2 separate regions of the Homo sapiens genome follow, and region 1 is linked to region 2. The links come from fine-mapping of genetic effects on gene expression. A gene starts in region 2. The other region holds a variant in brackets. All regions are shown on one strand. Distances are from middle to middle.

Region 1 (12,337 bases), 31 kb before region 2:
CAAGGCCCCTCCCCTAAGCCCTTCTTCTCCATCCCCAAGGCCACTGCCATTCTGTCTCCAGCACAGCTGCAGGGAAGCCCTCCAGGAGGACAGCAAAGCCCTCAACCCAAACTCCCTGCCAGCCACGTCTCTGTTGCTCCTCTGCATCTTGATGCTGGCTAACTATCAGGCCCCTGAACGAGACACCGAGTTCCATCTGCAGGTCATTGCTCACAACATTCCTCCCTTGGGGAATGCTCTCCTCTTACCTAAGGCTTCCTTGTCCTTCAAGACATAGTTTAAGTGGGTACAGCCCATGAAGCCCCCCTGCCCCTGGCCCGCTCTCTACCCCTCATCCTCTGACTCCTCCCAGGACCCCAACCCTCTCGCCTGCACATCGATGGGCACTGGCCCACGCTGCTTTTCATGGGCGGGGGCTCTTCCTCTTGCATCAGTCATAGCTCCTGACCTGGTCTGCAAGCTCCTTAAAGAGAGGGCTGACGTTGTCAGATCTGCTTGTCCCACCAGACCCAGAACCTCACACACAGTAAGTACCAAATACATTCTATGATATATTACAAGAGTTGCCTGCTCTGTGCCCAGCCTATACCAGGTACCTGACATGCTTTCCCCCTCGTGAATCCTTGCAACAACTCTACAAAATTATCCCCATTTTACCAATGAGGTCAGAGATATTGACTTGTTCAAGGTCCCACGGCTAATAAATGATAGTTTGACCTTGGTACCATGTGATTCCAAAGCTCTTTCCCTACTCCCTGCTCCCTGGATGATAAGGAGGCTGTCTCTGGCGAAGACACAGAGAGGAGGCCTGCACTGTCCTCCTTCATGTCAGGGCTGTCCCTAGACACCCTTCCCTTCTCTTTGCAGTTATCTCTGCATAGAACAGTCACCCATTCATTTATCTCTGCTGACACTATTTATAAGAGAAGAGAAGCCAAGGGCTGCCAGTGACCCCAGATACAGGCAGAAGCGGAGACGCCAGCTTAGATCCTGAGACAGACACTCACCCAGGGCCTCAGAGCAGACTGGGAGACAGGGAGGCCTGCTGCTGAGAATGACAGTCATGGGAGGCTGTGGGCAGGGGTTGGAGCCGGGGTGGCATCACTGGAGATGGGCAGGCGGGTGGGCAGGGAGGATGCAGCATGGGTGACAGGGACATCCTGGTTAAGAGCTGGGCACCAGGGTCAGACAGTCCTTTCTTGCCTCTTGGCAGCTTCCTGTATCTCTCTAAGCCTCAGTTTCCCCATCTGTAAATGGGGCTAATAGTATCCGCCTTATAGGCCTGTGGCAAGGTAAGATGGTCCTTGTCATACCTTTAGCTCTCAGGACCTGGCACTTAGAAAGCACTTAATGAAAGTGATCTTTGTCATGTTGCAGCCATAAGAGGAAATCATCGTGGGTCAAAGAGTGGGCACTGTCTTATGGGAGGGGGGCAGACCTTCTCACACAAGACTCAGATTCCTTCAAGGATGGAACTGAGATGCTCCCATAAGAAAGTATCCCAGGCTAAGAGGACACCAACCCAAATACGTTCCTCTGTGTCTCCCCTGGCCCCTTCTTCGTTATTTGCTATTTGTTAGCAACCCTGGACAGAGCATCCCTTCCATGCCAGACACTGCCCACACCTGCTTTTTCATTGCAATGTCTCCAGGAAGTACCACCGCTGATGATAATGGCTACTAAAACAAGAATACTGAGACTTCACACCTCCCAGCTGCTTGCCAGGTGCCAGGCCCTGCTCTGGGGCTTATATGCATTAACTGATTTAGTCTCGTAACAACCCAATTACAGATGAGAAACTGAGGCACAGAGGGCTTCTGTAACTTGCTCATGGGCCCGATGCGGGTTAGTAGCAGGCAGTACTGCCTGCCCAGTCAGTGCTAACGGGCACTGAGGGGTGACTCAGCAGATGAGTGCTGTGTGGGCTTGCAGGGGAGGCAATGACCTCACAGTCCCTCCGGGTTCCCTTCCCCCAGGCACCCTGTCCCTGGTCAGGCTACAGAGGAAAGGCCTGGGGAGAGCTGGGGAGAGGGGCAGGGCATTGCAAGCCAAGTGGGTGCTGCAGGGGACACTCCCGGGGAACTTCCCAGACACGTACACTGTGTCATGCGCCGGTCGTCGCTGCTCTGGATGCGGTGGCCATTGTGGAACCAGCTGATGGTGGGGTAGGGCAGGCCGGTCACCTGGCACTCTAGCATGGCCTCCTTGGCCAGTCCCACCTCCAGGTCCTGCAGTGGCCGCAGGAAGTCAGGAATGGACAGCCGCTCCAGCTCACCCTGCTCTGGCTCCTCGGGAATGGATGGCATCTTCTCCAGCTTCGAGCTGCAAGACCACACAGCTGCCCACAGGCCCAGGGCCGTGCCTCCCACCCCAGGGCTGGGCTGGCCCCTCACAGGCAGCCCCAGCATCATTTGGGGCCCCGGTGGTACCTGGGGCCTGAGGCGGCTGTCCGGGGCTCTTCTACATACAGCTGGGCTGAGCAGTGGGCCTGGCCATGGGTGTTAACAGCACTGACCGCATAGAGCCCCTCGTCCTCGCTGCCCACATGGGCAATGTGCAGTGAGTGCAGACCCCCGTCCTGCCGCAGCCGCAAGTTCTCACTCTCCTCCATGGGGCAGCCTGCAGAAAGGAGGGGTGGGAATGCAGAGCAGGCACAGTGAGGGGCCCTGCCCTCTGGGTGCACCCCATCGCCGCCTGGGCCCTTGGGGGGGCCCTCAACACCTGCAGCACAGGGGCCGTACCAAAATGAGTCCAGGTAACAACAGGGGGCGGGGTGCCACTGATCTTGCAGTCGAAACGGGCAGCTCGGCCCTCCAACACCTCCACATCTTCCAGCAGCCGTGTGAACAGGGGTGCCAACGAGGGCCGCACGGTCAGCCGGGCACTGCAGGTCAGCTCATCTGTGGGGCAGGGGGCAGCTCAGAGATAGGGAAGGCTAAGGAGGCCCAGGCATCCCAACCCACCACTCCTGACCTAAGGCTGAGCAGGAAGCTGGAGCCTGGGCAGAGCCCAGCAAAGGCTCTGGGTACTCAGGGGAGGAAGTGGGCACAGATCCAGAGACTAGACCTCGAGAGGGTGGAGGTCAGCAAGGGTGGGTGCAGACTGCCATGGTGGGCTGGGGACTCCATAGGAGCCCAGGGCCTGAGCCCAGGGCCTGGCCCCAGCTCCCCCCTCCTCCCCTCACCCTGCCCACCCTGGATGAAGCACAGCCCAGCTCTGATAGGGTCCTAGAAGCCAAGCCCACCCCTCCTCCATCTACTTCTCAGAATTCTCCTCTGTGCTGGGGTCATGCCCATGCTCCTAGCCACCTTCCCCAGACCCAGAGCAGATGCCCCTTGGCCCCACCTACCAACCCTCAAAGAAGCTTCTGGAGGAGATAAGGGTCCCTTATGTTGACCCGATGCACCCTCCTGCTTCTAAAGCCCCTCCAGCTTCCGCTTAGGTCTTCATCACCCACAACGTAGCAAGGCAGGTGCCATAATCTCTGCCCTTCCATGTGGGCAGGCCCAGGTCAGAGATAGCATCAGTGGTAACAATGGCTGGCATTTATTAGGCAGGTGTGCCATTTGAAACCCATTTCTGGAATGCTCAGTGCCCTACCCTCTCCTGGAAAGGCCCTTTGACAGGCCCTGTGCTTTGTTCTTCACATAAACTATCTCATTAATCCTGCCAATCCCTCTACAGAGGAGGAATGATCACCATCCCTGTTCTACAGATGAACAGGCTAAAGCTCAGAGAGATGAAGTGACTTGTTCAAAGTTATATGGCTGGTGACTTGCAGGGCAGGCGTGGGAACCCACGTTCACCTCAGCAGATGCACTCCCTCCTAGGAACAGTTAACCCTGTTGCGGCCTTTCCTTTGTGCTATGCACTATTCTAAGTGCTTATTTTATTGAGGCCAAGGCAATGTACTAGCTCCCACCCTCCCCCGCTTCCCCTCGGGGTTGGAGCTCTGTTTCCCAGGCATCTTACTGTACACCCCCAGTCCCCTCCCTCCAGCTCTTGGGCACCCACGGCAGCCCAATGCCTGAGTGGGGAGTTACCTTTGGCCGTGCTGAGCTTGCAGGTGTAGACGCCACTGTCGTCCTCATGTACAGATGTAAGTAGCAGCTTGCATTTGCGGCCATCGAAATGCATCTTGCATTTGAGCAGTGCAGGCTGCAGCAGGCGGCCACGGCACAGCCAATCCACCTCCACGTCAGTGGGCCCCGCCACCAGGCACTCAAACAGCGCCATCTCCCCGGCCCCCACGTCCACGTCCTGCAGGGGGGCCAGCACGGCCAGGGACCGGCTTTCAGGGTGTGCTGAGGGGAAAGCAGCCACGGGGGCCACGCACAGAGCAGAGACACACAGGGTGAGGGAGACACACATACGCACGCACAGAGAGACAGACAGACACAGAGAGAGAGATGCATTTTGTTCTCTGGAGATGGGGAAAGCCCACCCACCTGGCCAGGACAGCAAGGCATGCCCAGACCTGGCTTTGAGATGGCAATCCAAGCTGGGCCAGGGAGGGTGATTCATGGAGGCAAGAGGGAACTGAGGGAGGGGAAACTGAGAGGGCCACGTGGTGGCAGAGACATCGGCGGGGGAAAAAAAAACACAACACACCAGATAGGTACAAACTGGACTTTATTTGAGTTAAGAAATAGGTGTTTCCAAATTTCTCCACGCTCACTACAGTGGCCCCCTGCCCCTGCTCCTGCACCAAACTTGGTTAACTCCCTCATTCCCAGACAGAGCACCCCAGCCCTGACAGAGAAGGAGGGGGCCCCAAATGGGCCCTAAACCTGCCAGGGCCAGGGCTCAGCCAGGCTGTTCATCAGCACAGAGCCTGGGGCCTCTGGCTTTTGGTCTTTTGTGAAATAGAAAGTGTTGTGCCATTCGAAACCCATTTCTAGAATGGTCAGTGTCCTAACCCTTCCTGGTAAGGCCTTTGTCAACAGCCCCTGCTCCTTGGGCCCCTCCATGCCATGCCGTAATCTCTCCCACTCTGTCTCACCCCACCTCAGCTCCGAGGCATCCTTCCCTGACTGTCACAGACACACAGACAGACAAACAGATAGACAGGCCTGTAGCAGCAGTAGCACATGCACTCGCCCGGTGCTCCCCTTCAGGGAGAGACTCGGGGGGTTGATACCCCTCGCAGCCGCCCCTTCCCAGCACTCAGTCCATCTGTGGGCCTCCTGGCCTGCACAGCCATGTGTCCACTTGGGGAGGGAGGGTCCACAGGGGCCCATGGGCTATCCCCCTGGGGGCTGCATGGGGTGGGGAGGGGAGGCTGGGACGGGTCCGGGCCGGCAGGCCTGGGTCTGTGGGCAGGAGGCAGTGAAACACAGCGAGGTCCGAGAGGTGCCTGAGACAGGGGCGCGGCTCGGAGGGTAGCGGGGGGAGC[A/G]CAGGTGGCCCCCTGAGCTCACTCGCCTGTGTACAGACAAAAACCTCAGTCAGCAAGCGGCAGGTTAGTGCAGCATACGCGCACGCACGCGCACACACACACATGCACACACACGCATGCACACGCACACATGCACGCACACGTGCACGCACACGCGCGCACACACACACGCATGCACACACCCATACGCACACATGCACACGCACGCACACACGCACACACATGCACACACATGCATGCACATACACGCACGCATGCGCACGCACACGCACACATGCACGCACAGGCACGCAGACCTGGCTAGGGCCCTTCTGCATAGAGGGCTGCCTCTCACACCGTCAGGGCAGCACTGCCACTCTTGGCTCCCCCAAGGACAGCTCTGGGCTGCGAGGGCCGGCAGCTAGCCAGAGACTGGTTCCTCGGGGTTCCTGGGCAGGCAGAGACCCCGGGCAACCAGGCATTCATGGGATCAGGAGCACCCCAAAGCCTGGGGGTGTCGGAAGGAATCCCCAAGAGAAAGAAGCACCAAGACATGGGTTAATACAGAGAAGCGAGGCAGAGCCAGGCCCTGGAGAGAAAGCAGGCCGGGGAGGAGGGCTGAAGAATCTGGAGACCAAGGAAGTGGCAACTACAGGAACGGCAGGCACAGAGGAGGGGAACTGAGGCAGGGGGGCCAGCAGAGGGACCATGACTGTCAGGGTCTGAGCTCTGAGCCTTGGGGAAGGTCAGGGGCTGGGGGCTGAGTGAGAAGCGAGGAGAGGAAGCGAGGAGCCATTGAGGCGAAGGGTGAGGTGGAAGGCAAGATAAACGGTTGTGGCCTTTGGGGAGGAAAACCCATGGCCCTCGAGGGCCCCCTAGCCAGGGCCTGGCATTTCTGCTGCCTGAGAGGGCCCCTGCACATATGCCCCAGGCTCTGGGGGCCCAGGCCTCTTCACACGTCACAGCTGTGCTCACCCTGGCACCCTAGGGTCCCTGTGATGCTCCAAGCCTAAGCCACCCCAAGGGCCCCTCCGAACGGGTCCAGCCACCAGACTCTCCCCACCGCTACCTCACAGTAGCTTCTGCACAGCAATGGGATGGGAGGGTGGGCAAAGGGGCGAGAGGAGAGGGGGAGGGGGATGAGGGAGGGTCCTGGGCAGAGCAGGGTGACAAAGGCTCAGAAGAGTGTAGAGAGAGCTTGGCCAGTGGCAGGTGCAGGGTCTCTGGCTGCCGCCAGGGCTCCGTGATGGAGCAACAGGGAAGGTGGTGTTGTGTAGTAAGCTGAGCACGGAACAATGTGCTGTGCAGCTTTGGGCAGGTCACTTCCTGTCTCTGGGCTTTGGTTCACTCAACAATAATATAAGCAGCTGGACTAGGGGCCCCTTAAGGCCCTTTCAGTGGTGGCATCCTCTAACTGAGGCTGTGTGAGAGCAGACAGTGGGGGAAGGAAGGGGCCAGGGCCAGGTGGGCATTCATGGAGAAATCAGGTACTCACCTCGGACCTCCAAGCGGGCCTCGCACTGCCGAGCACCATACTCATTGACCGCTTTGCAAGTGTAGAAACCAGCATCGCCACGCTCTGCAGCCAGGATCCGCAGCCGGCACAGCCCACCCTCAGCCTCCTCCGCAAAGCGCCGCTGGTCTGGGCGCACGGGCTGGCGGTTTCTCAGCCTGTCAGAGGGGCAAGAACTCAGTCCCAGGGCCCAGGGGCCTGATGTGCGTGCACAGGAACTGGGGCTGCAGCACTGTGCAGGCCTCTCCTTCCCTGTGCAGTTTGCCCAGTCCCCAGATCTGTCCCACTGACCGTGGGCATCCCTGGTTTCCAGGGCTAGGTTTTTACCCCCACTCTGCCATCCCACCCACCTCTAGGAGCTTCCAGGTCACTTCTAACTGCCTGCAGCTCTCCCTTCTCGGAACCCTGCTGCATTCAGAGTGGAGCCGTGCTATTTAGCTCTTTTTTCTTGTCTTTTTTTTTTTTTTTTAAACAGGGTTTCCCTCTGTCACCCAGGCTGGAGTGCAGTGGCACAATCACAGCTCACTGCAGCTTCTACCTCCCCAGGCTCAAGCGATCTCCCCATCTCAGCCTCCTGAGTAGCTGGGACTACAGGCACACGCCACCATGCCCAGCTAATTTTTGTATTTTTTGTAGATACAGGGTTTCACCATGTTGTCCACGCTGGTCTTGAACTTCTGGGCTCAAATGATCCTCCTCTCTTGGCTTCCCAAAGTGCTGGGATTACAGACATTGAGCCCTCATGCCTGACCCTATTTAGCTCTTAATAATTCTTAAACTTCCCCATGTCTTATTTTTATTTATTTATAATGGACAGATAGCTTTCCCACTTCCCAAAAGGGATATGAAAAAACTTACAATGTTAAAAAAAAAAATCACAGTGGGGGCTGGGCACGGTGGTTCATGCCTGTAATCCCAGCACTTTGGGAGGCCGAGGTGGGTGGATCACCTGAGGTCAGGAGTTCGAGACCAGCCTGACCAGAAACCCTGCCTCTACAAAAAATACAAAATTAGCTGGGTGTGGTGGCACATGCCTGTAATCCCAGCTACTCAGGAGGCTGAGGCAGGAGAATCCCTTGAACCCAGGAGGCGGAGGTTGCAGTGAGCCCAGATCGCACCACTGCACTCCAGCCTGGGCGACAAAGAGTGAAACTCCAGCTAAAAAAAAAAAAAAAAAAAAAAAAAAAAAAAAAAAAAATCACAGTGGGGACCAGACAATCAATTAAAAATGAAAAACAGAATTCAAACCATAAAAAATTAGCAAGCTGAGTAATCCATCTTCCAGGCACCTGGGATGAGCGAGGCCCCTCTGCTTAGACCCACATTTAACTCGGGGCTGCTGGCAGCTCAGAAACAAATTGTTGCATGTCTTTTTTTTTTCAGCAATAGGGTCTTGCTATATTGTCCAGGCTGGAGTGCAGTGGTATGATCATAGCTCACTGCAACCTCAAACTCCTGGGCTCCAGTGATCCTCCTCCTCACCCTCATAAGTAGCTGGGTCTACAGGCATGTACTACCACGTCCAGCTAATTTAAAAAAAGTTTTTGTAGAGACAGAGTCTCACTATGTTGCCCAAGCTGGTCTTCAACTCCTTGGCTCAAGCAATCCTCCTTCCTTGGCCTCTGAAATGTCTTGCTCCTTGCTAATTTTGGGAAGGGGGTATTTTTATTTTTGAGACAGGGTCTCACTCTGTCACCCAGGCTGGAGTGCAATGGTGTGATCTCAGCTCACTACAGCTTCCACCTCCCAGGGTCAAGTAATCTTCTTGCCTCAGCCTCCCAAGTAGCTGGGATTACAAGCATGCACCACCACATCTGGCTAATTTTTTTGTATTTTTAGTAGAGACAGGGCTTCGCCATGCTGGCCAGGCTGGTCTCAAACTCCTGGCCTCAAGTGATCCATTCGCCTCACCTCTCAAAATGCTGGGATTACAGGCGTGAGCCACCGCACCCAGTCATTTATCCCAAATGGACAGACATGAGACCCAAACCCCTCCCCAGAAGGGGAAGCCCTAAATAAGCCTGGAACATGGGGCAAGGGACAGGGTGCCGGGGGGAGTACACTGCTGTCCCTGAGATGAGGCCCCTGAGGCAGATCATGGGGAAGCCCACCAAGATTCCATTTCCTTCCACCCAAAGCCAGACCTCCCAGAGCCAGGCCTGGCATAGAGTCGCTGGTGGGTGGTGGAAAGTGCGGCTACTCACCAGGAGACCACAGGCTTGGGCTCCCCCTGCACGCGGATGCTCATGATGACATCTTGGCCTTCTCTTACTGACTGGTCCATAAGTGAGACCTGAAGGGGGTACCCCAAAGTGTCAGGGGAAGACAGGGCAGAGCCTTGGGTCCTGGGGGCTGTGGAATCTGAGACGGAGGACTCTTCCACAGCCAGGCTGAGACTGGCTCTGGGTAAGAGGGTTTGAATGGGAGCAAAGTTCCAGGTCTTGATGTTGCCTAGGCATGGCCCCAAGAACAAGGGGGCACCCAAAGGAACGGGGGCACACAGGAGGCTAGGCCCCAGCCTCAGGGGTCTGACCTTGAAGGTGGGGGGTGCCTTGGAGCCAGTGTCAGAAGAACGGCGGTTCTGGCTGGGACTGGGCTTCATGGTGGGGGTTCGCGGCCAGGTCTCCCCAGGCTCTGGGAACTCCTCTGGGGGGCTCAGGTATTCCTCGTCGGAGGTGATGGGGCTGCTGAAAGGGGATGTAGACCCACCTGGAGAGAGACAGAGATAGCTACCAGGGAGGAAGGCGAGCAGAGAGCCTGGGAGAGCTGGCTGGAATGTCGCCCAGAGCCCAGGAGTTGCGGCAGCTCCCCGCAGGCCGGCCCTGCCCTGACTTCACCCCCAGGCTCCTGCGACCTCGCCCAGCTTCTTCCCCTCCCTGAGCCCCTGGAACCTCCTCTGCCACTGGCTCTGCCAACACCGACCCTGCTGATCCTCCCAGGAGGGGACACCATAGGGAAAGGCCTGGGGCAAAGGGTTCGGGCAGCAGAGGGGCCACTCCTGGGCCTGGTGGGAGAATTCCACTGGAGCAGGGCACCCACATTCCTGACATGGACTAGAGACCTAAACTACCAACTGCAGGCTCCAAAAGCAGGGGAAGCAGGTCTATGGAACCCTGGAGCAGCATGGCTAGGACGCCCATTTCTTGGGTGAGCTGGGCCTGGTGCAGAGGAACACACACCGCAGACAAGTCACATCCCGACCTCGGTCCAGGGCCAATGAGGCGGCACTATCTAGCCTGCCCCTCCCCCTTTCCCTTCTCAGCTTCCTGCCGTGCAAACCCCAGGGGCACCTGTTGGCCACAGCCCTACAGCTTGCACCCCCAAACGCTCGAGGGATAGGAAAGCAGAGCTGGAGTCATCCACCAAAAAGGGCAGCTCAGCCTGGGGGAAGAGGAGGGGGGCACCAGAGTCAGCCTTGGGGGAGGGGTGTCCCCAGGGCCCTGACGCCCTCCCCTGCAACTGGCCAGGGTCCCAGTCTCGCTGAGCTGGCTCCTATCCGACTGCCAAATACAGACATGAAACTGCCACAGCCCCCTAGGTTCTCCCCAGGGTCCCCCCACCCCAAGCCCCCAGCAGGGCTGTACCCCAACTCACCCCGAGGCTCTGCACACAGACCCCAGCCTGTGCCTGTCCTGAAGGCTCTGCCCTGGCACCAGGCCCTCCTGCTGCCTGCCCACTGCCCACCCCAGCGTGGCTCCCCAGGGAGCAGGAGCCCAGCCTGTCCAGCCTGCCCAGCCCCACTCACTCGGCTGACCCAGCTGAGGCCCTGCACGGAGAAGGCCCTGGGGGAGGGGAAGGCGCCTGAGGAGGGGAAGGAGGAGGTTGGATGGCAGGCCGGCAGGCAGCTGGCTAGGAAGGTGGTGCCTGCCGAGACCACAGGCAGCCTGGGCCCTGGTGTGGAGGGGGAGGAGAGGGGAGAGGGGAGGGAGGGCGGAGCGCGGCCGTCTGGATTTAGCCACTCTGCTCACTCCCAAGCCGCGGGATCTGCCTTTCTTCTCCTTACAGCTTCAGACCCTGACAAGAGCAAAGCCCGCTCTGCGGTGCCTTGACTCAAGGTGTGGGGCCTCCGTCCCCGAGCAAGACAGGGGAGGGGTGGCACTGCGCTGTGCCAATAGGGACACTTGCCCTGACCCATTTGTTCTGACACGTCCACCAAAGAAGGTGCCCGTGGGAAATGTTCCCTGTGTTGCCCCTTGCTCTGACGGAACCACCAAGATCCCTGACCGGGGAATGCGCTAACGAGCCTCAAATACTACAGAGCCAGGGCATACCTGTTTTCTTTGGCCCCGAAAATCGGAGAACTGTCAAGATCTTTGCCCTCCTTCACAGAGGTGGGGGAAGAATCTGAGGGGGCCCAGAATCCCACCTCTGCCCCCTCATCCCTGCCATGGAAGGTCTGGCCAGCAGCCACCACAGGGCCTAAGCCCACATCCAGCCTTCCTACCCAAACCGCCAGGGCACCTGTTGGCAACTTGCCCGCCACCCACCTTAGCCCCGCTAAAGAGGACAGCGGGGGCTGCCTCCCCCAAATGGCCCCTTATCATGAGAACCCATTTGTATCTGGGATGGGGAAAGGGTTTGGACACAGAACCTGAGAGAAGGGGGCTGTTGAGCAGGGGTCACATGTCCTTCTCCCTCTTCCTATCACCTCACCCCGCAACCCGGGGCCACATTCCCAAGCCATGACCTGTGTTTCCCAGCATGGCCAGTAAGGAAGGAGGGCTGGGGGCCGGGCAGAGGAGGGGCCCACGGTTCAGGCTGGCTGTCTTGAGGTAGGGTTGGGGAGGGAAGTCAGAATGGCATTTGGTGCTTAAGGCATTTGATGCTGAGATCACAGGCATGGCTCCGCAGGTGGGCGGTCCTACCCCTCTATGGAGCCTGGAGTCCTGCCCCAGGGTCACCTCCAGGCTGGACAGTACTGAGGAGGCTCACGGGCCCAGGGACTGGGAACGGAAGCAGAGCTGAAGGCCAGATGGTCAAGGTTTGCAGGGAGCCTCAGAGACCCCTGGTGGTGCCCAGGGGAACAGCATGCTGGAGGGCATCTAGCCATGAAGCAGACCCCCATCCTCAAGCCCCTTGGAGAGACAGACTGTCAGAGCAGCCCAGGCCTCTTCCAGACAAGGCAGTAGCCTCTGCCCCTCCATACCTCCAAAAGTGAGTGACCAAGGAAGCTGATCGAGGATTCCTGAGGCTCCATACCAGAATCCGGTGCCACCTAGTTTTTTCCCTGGCCACATAGCAAAAACCATCTTTGGAACCAGTCCCTGACATCCCAGCCCTGCTGCACCCACAAGCCCAACTCTCACTGTGGCAAACACAGTTACACCAGCCAGGAAGGAGGGGGCAGGTGCCCCCCTAAACCTAATAGGCACATACACTCAATGGCCCCGAACAACCCACCACGGAAGTACCGCCCCTTCACACTGGCTCCCAATCCCCCACGCTGACCC
Region 2 (12,337 bases):
AGTGAGCACAGGTAGTGCCAATCCTGATTTCTGAGCTGTGACTACTAAGTAACTATTAACAGTTATTGCGTGTTTGGTATGTACCAGGCATTGTGCTAAGCACTCTATGTGAATGAGCTCATTTAATCCTCACGACAAGAGGAAGACTGAGACACAGAGAGGTTACTTGCCCAAGGTCACATGGCCAATAAATTGAGGGAGCCAGAATTCCAACCTAGGCAGATGCATGAGAATCACTTATGCCCAGGAGGCGAGGTTGTAGTGAGCAGAGATCGCACCACTGTACTCCAACCTGGGTGACAGAGCAAGACTCTGCTTTAAATAAATAAATAAATAAATAAATAAATAAATAAATAAATAAAATAAAATAAATACAGGGACAGACTGATGAGTTTTGTTCAGCCTGCACAATGTTTGGGCTGGAGCAATCATGCCTGAGCTCAGCGCACCTCCCTCATTTTCAGTTTCTACTTGACCCCTGCAGTTATTTGAGTCTGTGGCCCCTTTATCTTATTTTAGATTTCTTTATTGTTTTAGAGACTAGGTCTCACTCTGTTGTCCAGGCTAGAGTGCAGCGGTGCCATCATGGCTCACTGCAACCTTGACCACCTGGGCTCAAGAGATTCCCCCCACCTCAGCCCCCCTTGTACCTGAGACTACAGGTGCATGCCATCATGCCCAGCTAATTTTTAAAAAAATATTAAGTAGAGATGAAGTCTTATTATCTTACACAAGCTGGTCTCGAACTCCTGGGCTCAAGCTATTCTCCTGCCTCGGCATTCCAAAATGCTGGGATGATAGGCATGAGCCACCGCACCTGGCTGCTCTTTTATTCTAAAGTTTAGGTCATGTCTTGTACATTCTGGGTGCATACAGGTGTTCTTGTTTCCTAGAGCATCAAAGCAAATTACAAGTACAGACACATGCACAGGGACGTGTGCTGAGAGGGCACATATGTGTGTCCACACTCGTTCCAGCCAGAGGACCCTGGACACCCATGGGCACTTTCCATGTACACCCCTAAACACACCCACTCACAGATGGGGAGCTGAGTGATGAGAGGGGGTAACTTGAGCCCCTGTTCCCCAGGAGAATCCAAGGGGCTGGCACATTCCGTAGCAAAAATAACCAATGGGCAGCGGGCGTGAGTGACGGGACAGCTGGGCCCAGGAGGGGCCGGCAGGATTCTGTGTTCCTGCTCTGGGTCGGCACTGCTCACTCCTGAAGGGCTGGCCTGGAACATGCTCTCTGGGTGGGCCTCCCCAGCTGGCCCCAGATTGCCCCATTTTTCTCCCATAGCTGGGCAGCTGTGTCTCCCTGCCACTCCCCCAAACCCAGACTTCCAATTTCTGCACTGCCAGCATTTCCCTCCAACCAGAGAAAATCCAAATCTCCATCCTATGCCACAAGCTCCCACCCCACCTCCCTTTTGTCTCCTCTTTCCTGCCTCAGTTCAGTTTCTCCCTTCTCTCATTTACGACCCTGCTCTGTATTTCTGACATACTGTGTAATTTACCTATTTACTATGTTTATTGTGTATTGTCTGTCTCCCCTCACTAGAAAGTTATCCCCTGGAGGACATAAATTTTGGTCTCCCTCAACCCCCTGACTCGTGTATCAAAAGCACATAGTAGGCACTCAATAAATATGGGAGGGGGTGGCAGAGCTGCAGGTGGAGAGGGTAAGCAGTGATGGGAACGGGGACAGTAAATCTTCCTGCAACGGCTTCCACTCATCCAGCCTTCCCCCTTCTCTGTCCTAACCCATATTCTGTCCCCAGAGGTCTTTAGCCAGAAAAGTGACCATCTCTCATTCCACTCAGGATTCCCCTGGAGAGGGTCCCAGAGCTCCTCTCTGCTCCCACTCTGGCCTCTCCTCCGCTCACTGGTCAGCACTTGGCATGCATGCATGTTGACACTCCCCATACCCATTCCCAGCTCCATACTACTTTCCACCTGGCTTCTCTAGCCAGACATTCTAAATTCCAGGTGAAAAAGAATAACTGCAGAATATTCCTCAACACAGGTTCTGGTACATTCCTCTACCCTTTCCTTGCCTAAGTTGGCCCTCTCTCCCTATCTCTAAGCTCTCCTCTCCAAGCCTTTGAGTCCCCAGGATGGTTCATTACCATGTTTTGATCTTTGGCCCTTCTGATTAACACCAGAATCTTCCAGACCCTAGCTATGAAGCTCCAACTAACACACCATGTGAGCATCATCAGCTCACCTCTTCTCTCGGCTGTGCCTTCTCCTGCTTCCCCTCTGCCCTTTAGTGCAGGTCTGCTCTTCAGCCACACACGCACACCCACAGCTTTGAGGGTAGCACTTGCTGTGGTCTCTGGATTTGCATGTGGCTCCTCAGCCTGTGCAAGTGGGAGCCTGATATTTTGAAAAAGAAGAATGCCTGCCTATCTTGGAGACTAGGCCAGAGATGGATTTGGAGATATTGACGGAGAAAGATGGTGACGATGACAAATCCTTGACAGTCTTCCCACACTTCTCTTTCTGTGGACAAGCAGTATGGACCCAGACTCAGATACCTGGCTTTCAGACCTGGCTCTGGCACCTCACTAGCCATGGGAACTTAGGTAAATTTCCTCTTTGAACCCCAGTTTTTCTATATGAATAATGGTCATAACAGTAACCTAGGGTTTGGAAGATTAAATAATTAAATGAGACAGGGTACTTACGCATGTTAAGGATTCTACAAGTATCCTGCATTTCTGCTATCTTCACCTCCTTTGTTTCCGATTCTTCCCTCATTTCTACATCCCCCAAATCTCAGCACCACCACCCCCAGTTTCCCATCCTCCAAATTTTCCAGGCTGTAGCCCACTTGCCTTCTCATGACCCCAACTTTCCAGAGCCATGCCCAAATCCTTCCATCCTTGAGCTAACATATCCGGCTTCAGGAGTGCCAGGAACCTAGCATCACTTTGTCTTATTGAGCCAGCAATCCCAGCCAGGAAAGCATGTCCTTCCGTCTGCAGCCAGGTCCTTGCTTGGCTTCCTCGAGTACCCTGAAGTCCTCCTGCTGTTGTTTCCAACCAAGAAAGTTTTCCATGAGTAAGTCTGAGCAATGCCGAGCTGCTTGCCCGGCTGCCCTGGAGCAGGAGCTATCACTGGGCAGGGGCTGGTGGGGGTGGGCAACAGAAGGGATAGGAAGCCAGATTCACCCAGTCAGTCCCCCAGCATCACCAAAGCAAAGCCCCTCCCTCCTCCAAAGCATGTGGGATAGGTGTAATAGTTACACACATGGTTCTTTGCAGTGGGACAGACTGAGGCCTCCACCTGTTCTGCCACCTTCTATCTACACAATCAGGACATGTTCTCAAAGGTTATTTGCTGCAGCCCAGTCCTCTTCCTATTCTCATATGAATGTCAAAGGGCCCCTGATCCAGCCCCACAACACCCAGGGCCCTTTTCTTACCCCAAGCCTCTCAAGCCTGCTGTTCCACCAGAGCAGCCCAGCCTGCACACTGTCAGCCTGGCCTCTGTCTAGGTACGCCCAGCCAGGCTCAGCGCTGCTGACCACACCACCAAGACTGCAGAGAGGCTGAGCAAACAGCCCTGCTGGGGGCTCTCACACCTCATCACCACTTACCACTTTGAGGGACCAAGGCAGGCCAGGAGACATCCATCTTGAGAAATGCCAGGCCTGGGCCAATCATGTGACAGCTACTTTCCCAGTACTCTCCCTCCCTCTCTCGCTCTTTCCTCTCTCTCCAGAACTTCTTGAGGAGTACAAGGCCCCCAGAACCAAAACCAGGAGGACTGGGTTCTTAGTTCTGGGATGGCCATAACTAGCTATGTCTCTAACTAGACTAGTACGTCTTAGGCAGAGCTCCCTGATCTTTGGCCCACAGTGTCCTTGCCTGTGAAAGGATGTGTTTGGAGCTGCAGTTCTCTGTGGTCCTTTCCAACCTTAACTTATATTATGACTGTTACTCTCCTTGTCAGCTCTTTCGTTCCCTTCCCTAATCTCTCCCCCAGTCATATTCTCATCAACTCATCTATCTTACCCTTTGATCTATGTTCTATTTTCAGCCCTCTTTGCCCCTGGGGGGACCAGAGCTGAGATCCCCAAGGAGTCCACACCTTCCCCAGCTCCGAAGTCTGCTAGAATGCACCCCATCCCCTGATCCCAGGCTCGGGAGGCCTGTACTTGTCCAGGTGCTAGGCCAACCAGGAGACGCCAGCCTTGGCCCTCTCTGGCCCAGGCCTGGCCACAGAGACTCCAGGAAGGTGGGCAGAGCAGGGCTGGGGGGAGGAGATGCCGATGGAGGGAGGCCAGCCCGGCTCCCTCTCCTGACTTGGCTGTGTCCTAGAGACTTCTTGCCCACCTGCTGCTGAGGGCTTTCCTCCCTGTGCCTCCTCCCCAGCCTCCAAGGATTTACCCCTACACAGCAGCACCCAGGGGAGTGACATGTCCCTCTTAGAAACGTCCAAGGGAGTGAACCCCCAGCTCCTTGCCATCTCTCCCAGCTGTAGCCTACTTCCTCAGAATTCTGTTTCTCAAGGCGCAGCCTGCCCAAGGCTCTGCCTTTGGCTAGAGAAGTACCACTTGGCTTACTCAAGGACTGAGGAAATCAAAAAGGAAGCCCCCAAATGGATCCAAGGCTAACGGCCCTGGCCTGGCCTCCATGGTAGCCCCAGCTGGACCATGAGCACTGGGCCCAGCCTCTTGCCCTCCCCTTCTGCCTCAGACCCTCAGCCTTTTCTTCACACTGCACCTGGAAATCTATGGGCGGGGGACAAGCACTGGTCCATAGCATCCCCCTTCCATGCTCTGGAAACATCCACTCTGGAAGCTCAGGTAGACATGGTCCAGGAGCTTCCCATTCCAGCTCCACGTGCCCATACCTCACCTGTTTGCACCACCACACAGAATCCAGGGCCCTCCACAGCACCCATGCAGGCACACACCTGCATGTGGATTCTCAAGCACTCACCTCCATTCATGCCCATGGGGCCCTGGCTCGGGCTCCACCTCCTCCTACCCTGGACCCTGTTCACACGTGGCCAACCATAGGCCTCTTCCACACCCCACCTAGAGCTGACCACATCAACCCTGCCACGGCAATGGCCTGCAGGGAGCTCTGAGCCATCCCTTCAACAGTGCAGCCTGGACCAGAGGAGCTGGCCCCCTCCTTCGGACATGGACTCCCCTGTTAAGGAGCTGATCGGAGTGTCAATCTCAAGTTTAAATCATGGAACTGAAGGACACCCTTTCCCCCAGGAGGCTTTTCTCCACAGGAGGAGAAGAACTTCCACCCCAGAATTCCCTGAGAGGTGGGAGTGGGTCTCAGGCTTGGCTTATCAACCGCTTGCTGCCCCTTGACCTCTGACCTTCCTGTGGGGAGCCTCTCTACCTTGACACCCCATTCCCTGCACTTGGCTCTTCGTCTCACTTCTGGGGCCGGGCAGCCGAGAAGCCAGGGCACCTGGGAAGAAGGCGGCGGAACCAGTATCCAGTACCTTACCCGCGTGGCCTGGGCAGCCCTTTTCTACCTCTGAGCACCCCGCCCCTGCCGGGCGCGGCCCCCACCTGCCCTTTACCTCCGACCTCCAGCACTGTGAGCACCGCCTCGCAGGAGGCCCGGCCCCGCTCGTTCTGGGCCATGCAGCTGTACACGCCGGCGTCCTGCGCCCCGCAGCGCCGCAGCCACAGGCAGCTGGGCTCGGGGGCCGGCGCGGGCAGGAGCTGCCCATCCCGGAACCAGCGGAGGCTGGGCTGGGGCGTCCCGCTCACCACCACCCGCAGCCGCACGTCGCTGCCCGCGCACACCGCCGCGTTCTTCAGGGGCCGCAGGAAGACTGGCGCCCCGGCCACGGCCACAGGAGCCCCGCCGCCGGCCCCCACCTTGGCCCTTTTCGGGGGCACTCCGGGGCTGGGGGGTGCCCTCGTGCCCGCATCCTCGCCTCGCGTGCCCCGGGCTTTCTGCATGGCCACTGAGAGCTGGGCTGGGGGGACGCCGGAACTGGGCGGCCACGGGGGCACCCGCGGGACGGTGCCCTAGGAGACAAGTCTGGGGGGCCGGCGGCCTGCCTTCCTGCTGCCCGCCCGCCTTCGGCCTGTGCTACCCAGAAGGTCACCGGGGCGGCCGGCGATTGCGCCTGGGGGCTATTTTTAGGCCCCCCGGCTCGGGTTGCGAGGGAGCCGTGGAGGGAGGGGGCAGCAGGGGAGGGACTTGACTCCACTTGGCTCCTTCTCTCCCTCCAGGAGCCCCCATCGCCGGCCCGGCTTAAGGGAGTCCCTCGGTATTTGTTCCAGGCTTTCCCCTCCGTAGTGTGCCTGGCCCCCACACGACCCACTGCAGGGAGTCAGGTTACCCCTGGGCTCAATCCCATTTCCCTTCCTCCCTCATCTCAGACCCCTCATCCCTGCCCGGCTTCGCTGGGAGGGGAAGAAGAGGAACGGTCCTGGTGAGATGCCTGAGAGGTGGATGGGGAGGCAGGCCCAAGTGGAGGTGAGCAGACAGCTCCGAAGAGGGACCATGGCCTCCCCCAGCGCCTCCATTACAGCTGGCGAACAGTAAGACCAGGAGCCTGGGAGTCAGGTGGATTGGGGCCTCCACTGCGCCCTGCCCTTACTTGCTGGGTGACACCAAACCTCTCTCAACCTCCAAGTCCTCATCTGTAAGAATGGGTGGTGGAATAGGGTTGCAATAGGCAGAAAAGAGTGGGCAGGACATTCCAGGCAGAGGGAACGGCATGAACAAAATGAGCCTGATGAAAACAAAGGCGTCCTGGGAATTAGAGAGGTTTGGAGGGATTGAAGCGTAGTGGGTGGGGTGAGTGGAAGAAGGGAGGTGGGGCCTGGAGAAGGCTTTGTTTGCTAAGGCTTTGGTTTCTCTACCCTGAAAGCAGGGGGCGCCACTACACAGCTTTAAGCGGCAGAAAAAACACGGTGGGAGCTGTGTCTTAGGAGGATCCTCTTGGCGGCCACAAAGTGGAGGATGGATAGAAATGACGGCCAGTTCAAGTAAAGGCCAGATTCCCAGCCTCCTTGCCCCACACTGGTTCAGCAGCTGAGCTGGGAGGAATCTGCACATTTAACAAATGACTCAACTGATTCTGATGTGCCTAAGTGTTGCACGTTGAGAAACATCAAGAGTCCAGATGAGACCTTTGTGATAGAACAGTTCTGTATCTTGGCTGGGCGCGGTGGCTAACACCTGTAATTCCAGCACTTTGGGAGGCCGAGGTGGGTGGATCACTTGAACTCAGGAATTCAACACCAGCCTGGCCAACATGGTGAAACCTGTCTCTACTAAAAATACAAAAAATTAGCCAGGTGTAGTGGCTCATGCCTGTAGTCCCAGCTACTCAGGAGGCTGAGGCAGGAGAATCGCTTGAACCTGGGAGGTGGAGGTTGCAGTGAGCCTAGATGGCACCACTGCACTGCAGCCTGGGCAACAGAGTGAGACTCTGTCTCAAAAAACAAAACAAAACAAAAACAGAACAGTTCTGTATCTTGACAGTGGTAATGGTGGTGGTTATGTGGATCTACACAAGTGATAAAGTTGCATAGAACTAAATGTGCATTTGCACTTGTACGCAACACTAACAGTACATGTAACACTGGTAAAACTTGCAGAAGGTAGGTGGATTATACCAATGCCCCTTTCCTGGTTGTGATGCTGTACTATAGTCATACAAGATGTTACCCTAGGAGGAAACCAAGTGAAGGTAATTCAGGATCTCTCTGCATTATTTCTTATAATTGCCTGTGAATCTACAGTTATCATAAAGTAAAAAATTTTTTAAGAAGTCCAAGTAGGAGACCCAGGCCTGACCTTGAGCCCTGAGGGATGAAACCCAGGAAGGGCTGAGAGGAGCCATGAGTATTCAGAGGCAGAGAATGTTACTCTTACCCTTGCCTCCTCTTCCCCATCCTCATTCTGGGATACTGAAGTCAAAGAGAAAGAGAGAGAGCGCGAGAGACAGTGTGTAAAAGGTATAGGAGGAACCATTTAAACACTGAATTACATCCATAGAGGTTAAGAACCTTGAGGAATAATTTTTTTTACAGTTTGCATACATTAAAGTTTTTTTTTTTTTTGAGACGGAGTTTCACTCTTGTTGCCCAGGCCGGAGTGCAATGGTGTGATCTCGGCTCACCACAACCTCCTCCTCCCGGGTTCGAGCAATTCTCCTGCCTCAGCCTCCCGAGTAGCTGGGATTACAGGCATGCACCACCACACCCAGCTAATTTTGTATTTTTAGTAGAGACGGGGTTTCTCCATTTTGGTCGGGCTGGTCTCGAACTCCCGACCTCAGGTGATCTGCCTGCCTCAGCCTCCTAAAGCACTGGGATTACAGGTGTGAGCCACCGTGCCTGGCCTAAAGTTTATTTTTTTATGAGGTGCAGTTCTCTGGGTTTTGACAAATGCATAGAATCATGTATCTGCCACTCCAGGACCATACAGAGCAAACAATTCCATCACCCCAAATACTAGCTCATGTACCCCCTTCGGAGTCATAGACTCTACCATAGACCCCCTCCACCAACCTCTGGCAACCACTGATGATGAATCGAATTCTAAAGTGTAAATTGAATTCTAGAAGGTGACAATATGGGGGAAGTCATTGCAAACAGATGGTACATCAAGAAAAAAGGAATAGAGAGTATTTCGAAAAACAAATAACCCAAAGCCACCCAACACTGTGCCTCTAAATGTGTGTGGAATGCAGTGGGTAGACTGTAAATGTTGGCTGGTTAGTAAGTTGGTTGAATAAATGAACGATGCGATCTCAAGCAAGTTACCTAGCATCTCTAAGCCTCGGTTTCCTCATCTATAGAATGGAGGTAGCACAACTCAGGGTTTTAATTATTTATTCATCCATAATTTTTTTATTTATTCATCCACAAATATTTTTGAGTTTCTACTATGTACTGGCACTGTGCTAGGGACTAGGGATATAGCAGTGAACAGACAAAGATTTCTGCTCCCATGCTGCTTTTACTTGAGAAGAGAGATGAACAACAAATACAAAGAAATAGGCTGCGCACGGTGGCTCACGCCTGTAATCCCAGCACTTTGGGAGGCTGAGGCAGGAGGATCACCTGAGGTCAGAAGTTCAAGACCAGCCTGGCCAACATGGTGAAACCTCATCTCTACTAAAAATACAAAAATTAGCCAGGCCTGGTGGCACACACCTGTAATCTCAGCTACTTGGGAGGCTAAAGCAGGAGAATTGCTTGAACCCGGGTGGCAGAGGTTGCAGTGAGCCGAGATGGCACCACTGCACTCCAACCTGGGCAACAGAGTGAGACTCCATCTCAATAAGAAAGAAAGATAAGAAAGAGAAAGGAAGGAAGGAAGGAAGGAAGGAAGGAAGGAAGGAAGGAAGGAAGGAAGGAAGGAAGGAAAAGAAAGAACCTGTAAAGATTGTTACAAGGAGGTAAGCACTGTGGACAAAGCTTAAGGCAAATGTGAGTGTGGTGGGAGATTGCACTTTCAAATAGGGTGTGGCTGGAGTTGGCCCCACTGGGAACATTTGAGCCAATCTTGAGTAAGAAAGCAAATGATGCAAATGTCTGGGGAGGGCTGCTTCTGGCAGAGGTGGGAATATGCCTGGTGGGCTCCAAGACGAAGGCCAGAGAGGATGGAGGGAGCAAGGGGAGAGTGGAAGGAAATGGGTCAGACAGGCAGCAGAAGCCAGATGGCCTAGAATTTTGCAGGCCATGGCGCTTTTGTTCCTGGTGAAATGAGAAGTCATCTTAGGGCTTTGAGCAGAAGAATTACATGATCTGACTTACGTTGTAGTAATGACATTAAATTATTATATTAAATATTCAAATGAAGATTAACTATTTAAAAGGGCCTGGCACAGAGCCTGGAACATGACTTGCCTTCTGCCTTCCTAGATCCATAATTGGGGCATTCGTTGATTTGCGTGCAGGAGTCTGTGGGCCTGGGTAGGGAGGGCACAAGTCCATGCAAGTCACTGGTGCCCTCTTCTGGGAGGAGCCCACACTAGCTGTGACAGCTGGAAGCCGTCAGGCTCTGGCCAGGCCAGGCCAGGCACTTGGGACAGCTGGCTGCAAGTCACTCGTCTGTCCCTCAGCATGGGCCCCACAGTGCCCTGCAGCCTGGCGCCTAGCTGGGTGTGTGTGCTGCCAGTCTGCCCTGTCTTGCGATCACAAGCCTCTGGTGTCATGGAAAGAGATCTGAGCTCCAGAGGCCAGGGAGCCTGGAGCCCAGTCCTCCTTTGCTACAGACTGCTGTGTGACCTTTGCAGGTCACCCTACCTCTCTGGAGGTGCCACTGGGCACTTCTTAAGCCATAATGATGTACCACATGCCTGGCACATGGGAAAAATCTCAGTAAGTGTTCATTGAATCAGTGAATAAAGTGGGGGCCATCAGCCCTTCCTGGTGAATATTTAATTTAGAGAAAAGTAAGTAAAAGTGCGCAGTAGGTATTCATTCATTAAGTATTTAAATATTTAATGAGTACCTACTATTCTTCCAGGCATTCTTCTGGGCACTTGGGATACAATAGTGAATAAAATGGATTAAAATTCTACCCTTAGGTAGCTGACGTTTTAGGTGTTAAATCGAAGGTTATTGAAGCATTTGCAGATGTGCCTTGGGTGAGCTTGTGGTGAGAGGAAGGAGGGAGGGGGTGAATGAGTAGAATAGGACAGGGGCCTCAAGGGACGGGGGTGAAAATATACCTGGAGTGGACAGACAGGCAGGAAAATGTCTGCTGATCCATCAGTCCTGGCATATGGTGCCTGCCTCCATGATCCCTTCCATTACACCCTGTCTGCTGGGGTCAGAGCTGGTCTGGGCCTGATCCTTTGGGTCCGGTGGGAAGCCGATCAGCATTCTATGAGCCCTGTTACTTCTTGATGTTCAGAGTCTTGAAGGTTAAGACCCCAGAGCCCAAGGAGCAGGAAGAGGCTTTGCCGTGGAGGTGTTTTTTTTTTTTTTTTTTTTGAGACAGAGTCTCCCTCTGTTGCCCAGGCTGGAGTGCAGTGGCGCGATCTCGGCTCACTGCAAGCTCCGCCTCCCGGGTTCATGCCATTCTCCTGCCTCAGCCTCCTGAGTAGCTGGGACTACAGGCACCCACCACCACGCCCGGCTAATTTTTTTTTTTTTTTTTTTTTGTATTTTCAGTAGAGAGGGGTTTCACTGTGTTAGCCAGGCTGGTCTTGAACTCCTGACCTTGTGATCCACACGCCTCAGCCTCCCAAAGTGCTGGGATTACAGGTGTGAGCCACCGTGCCCCGCCCCTGTTGTTGGGTTTTTGTTTTGTTTTGTAGAGATCGGGTCTTGCAGTTTCCCAGGCTGGTCTCAAACTCCTGGGCTCAAGTGATCCTCCCACCTTGGCCTCCCAAAGTGCTGGGATTATAGATGTGAGCCACTGCAGCCGGTGGAAACCCAAATCTGTTTTGGTTTGTATTTGCCCATTCTCTGGGTTCCCTTGGTCACAGCTCAGCTCTTATGAAGAGAGGCAAAGATTAGAACCAGAATTTCTAGTTCCAGGCAGGCTGTGCTCAAAGAATCCTTCCCCACCTGGGGGATAGAGGGTGGCTCTGGGCCTTCTTTCTTCTCTGGGGACAAGTGGGTAGCAGTCACAGGAGACAGGTGTGCTGAGAAGGAAGAGCTTTATTTCAGAACTGTCCCCAGCTGGAAGGGGCCACCAAAGAAGCGGTGAGTTCTCGGGCTCTGGAGACATTCAGGCAGAGTTTGAGGAATGCTCATGAAGGATGTGGGGCAGGGCTGAGAAGGGGGTTTCTGCACCTCAAGGATCATTGCCTGGGAGCCTTCTGAGGTCTGACTCTGAGAGCCTGAGATTCCTACATTCCTTCCACCTTAGTGACTAGTCTATACCTAAGCATTTGGTGGGCTGGGGGGTGGGAGGGGAACTGCCTCCAAAACCTCCCCTAACCCATGTGTCCCTTTATCCTTTGTGGGACAGATAAGTGCACATAACTCATTCAGGGGAAAGAAGGATTCCAGAAACTACTCACAGATATACACACCCCCTCTAATCCACCTGAGCCCAGCCCTGTCCAGGTGTTTCCAACACAGAGAAGCTGGCTCAGACTCCAGGGCCCCCAACAGACTCAAGGATAAGAAGCCCCTTACCCATCCCTCCTCCTCCATCCCAGTACAAAGACATTGGAAATGGGACTTTCAATTTCATTTCCTGTGAGGGTCATTGTGGAGTTTCTCTACAGGTTGACTGGGGTAGTTCTGGGGCCTGTAGGGTTCACCCTATTTGAGGACTGAGGGGAATGAAATGACCATGAGTCACCAGTGGCAGAGGGAGGGGACATGGGGCTACACCCCAGGTCCTCCTGGGGCAAAGCTGAAGAAT

What was found.
Region 1: its variant is fine-mapped to the expression of SPEG in whole blood (TOPMed, PIP 0.92).

What each region holds. Positions count from the first base shown.
Region 1 is chr2:219,459,141-219,471,477 of GRCh38, reverse strand. It overlaps SPEG (striated muscle enriched protein kinase), which reads right to left. Exons shown (of 41, transcript NM_005876.5): 7 at 9,421-9,596; 8 at 9,092-9,180; 9 at 6,870-7,045; 10 at 4,044-4,304; 11 at 2,742-2,900; 12 at 2,430-2,619; 13 at 2,099-2,322. Among named protein-coding and RNA genes, the nearest start is that of SPEG, 30 kb to the right of the region's middle. RefSeq lists enhancers at 4,216-4,758, 5,006-5,671, 5,672-6,339 and a silencer at 10,616-10,796. The variant A/G (reference allele first, on the strand shown) is at 5,396.
Region 2 is chr2:219,428,587-219,440,923 of GRCh38, reverse strand. It overlaps SPEG (striated muscle enriched protein kinase), which reads right to left and starts at 6,081. Exons shown (of 41, transcript NM_005876.5): 1 at 5,559-6,081. The coding sequence starts at 5,946. RefSeq lists an enhancer at 8,685-11,774.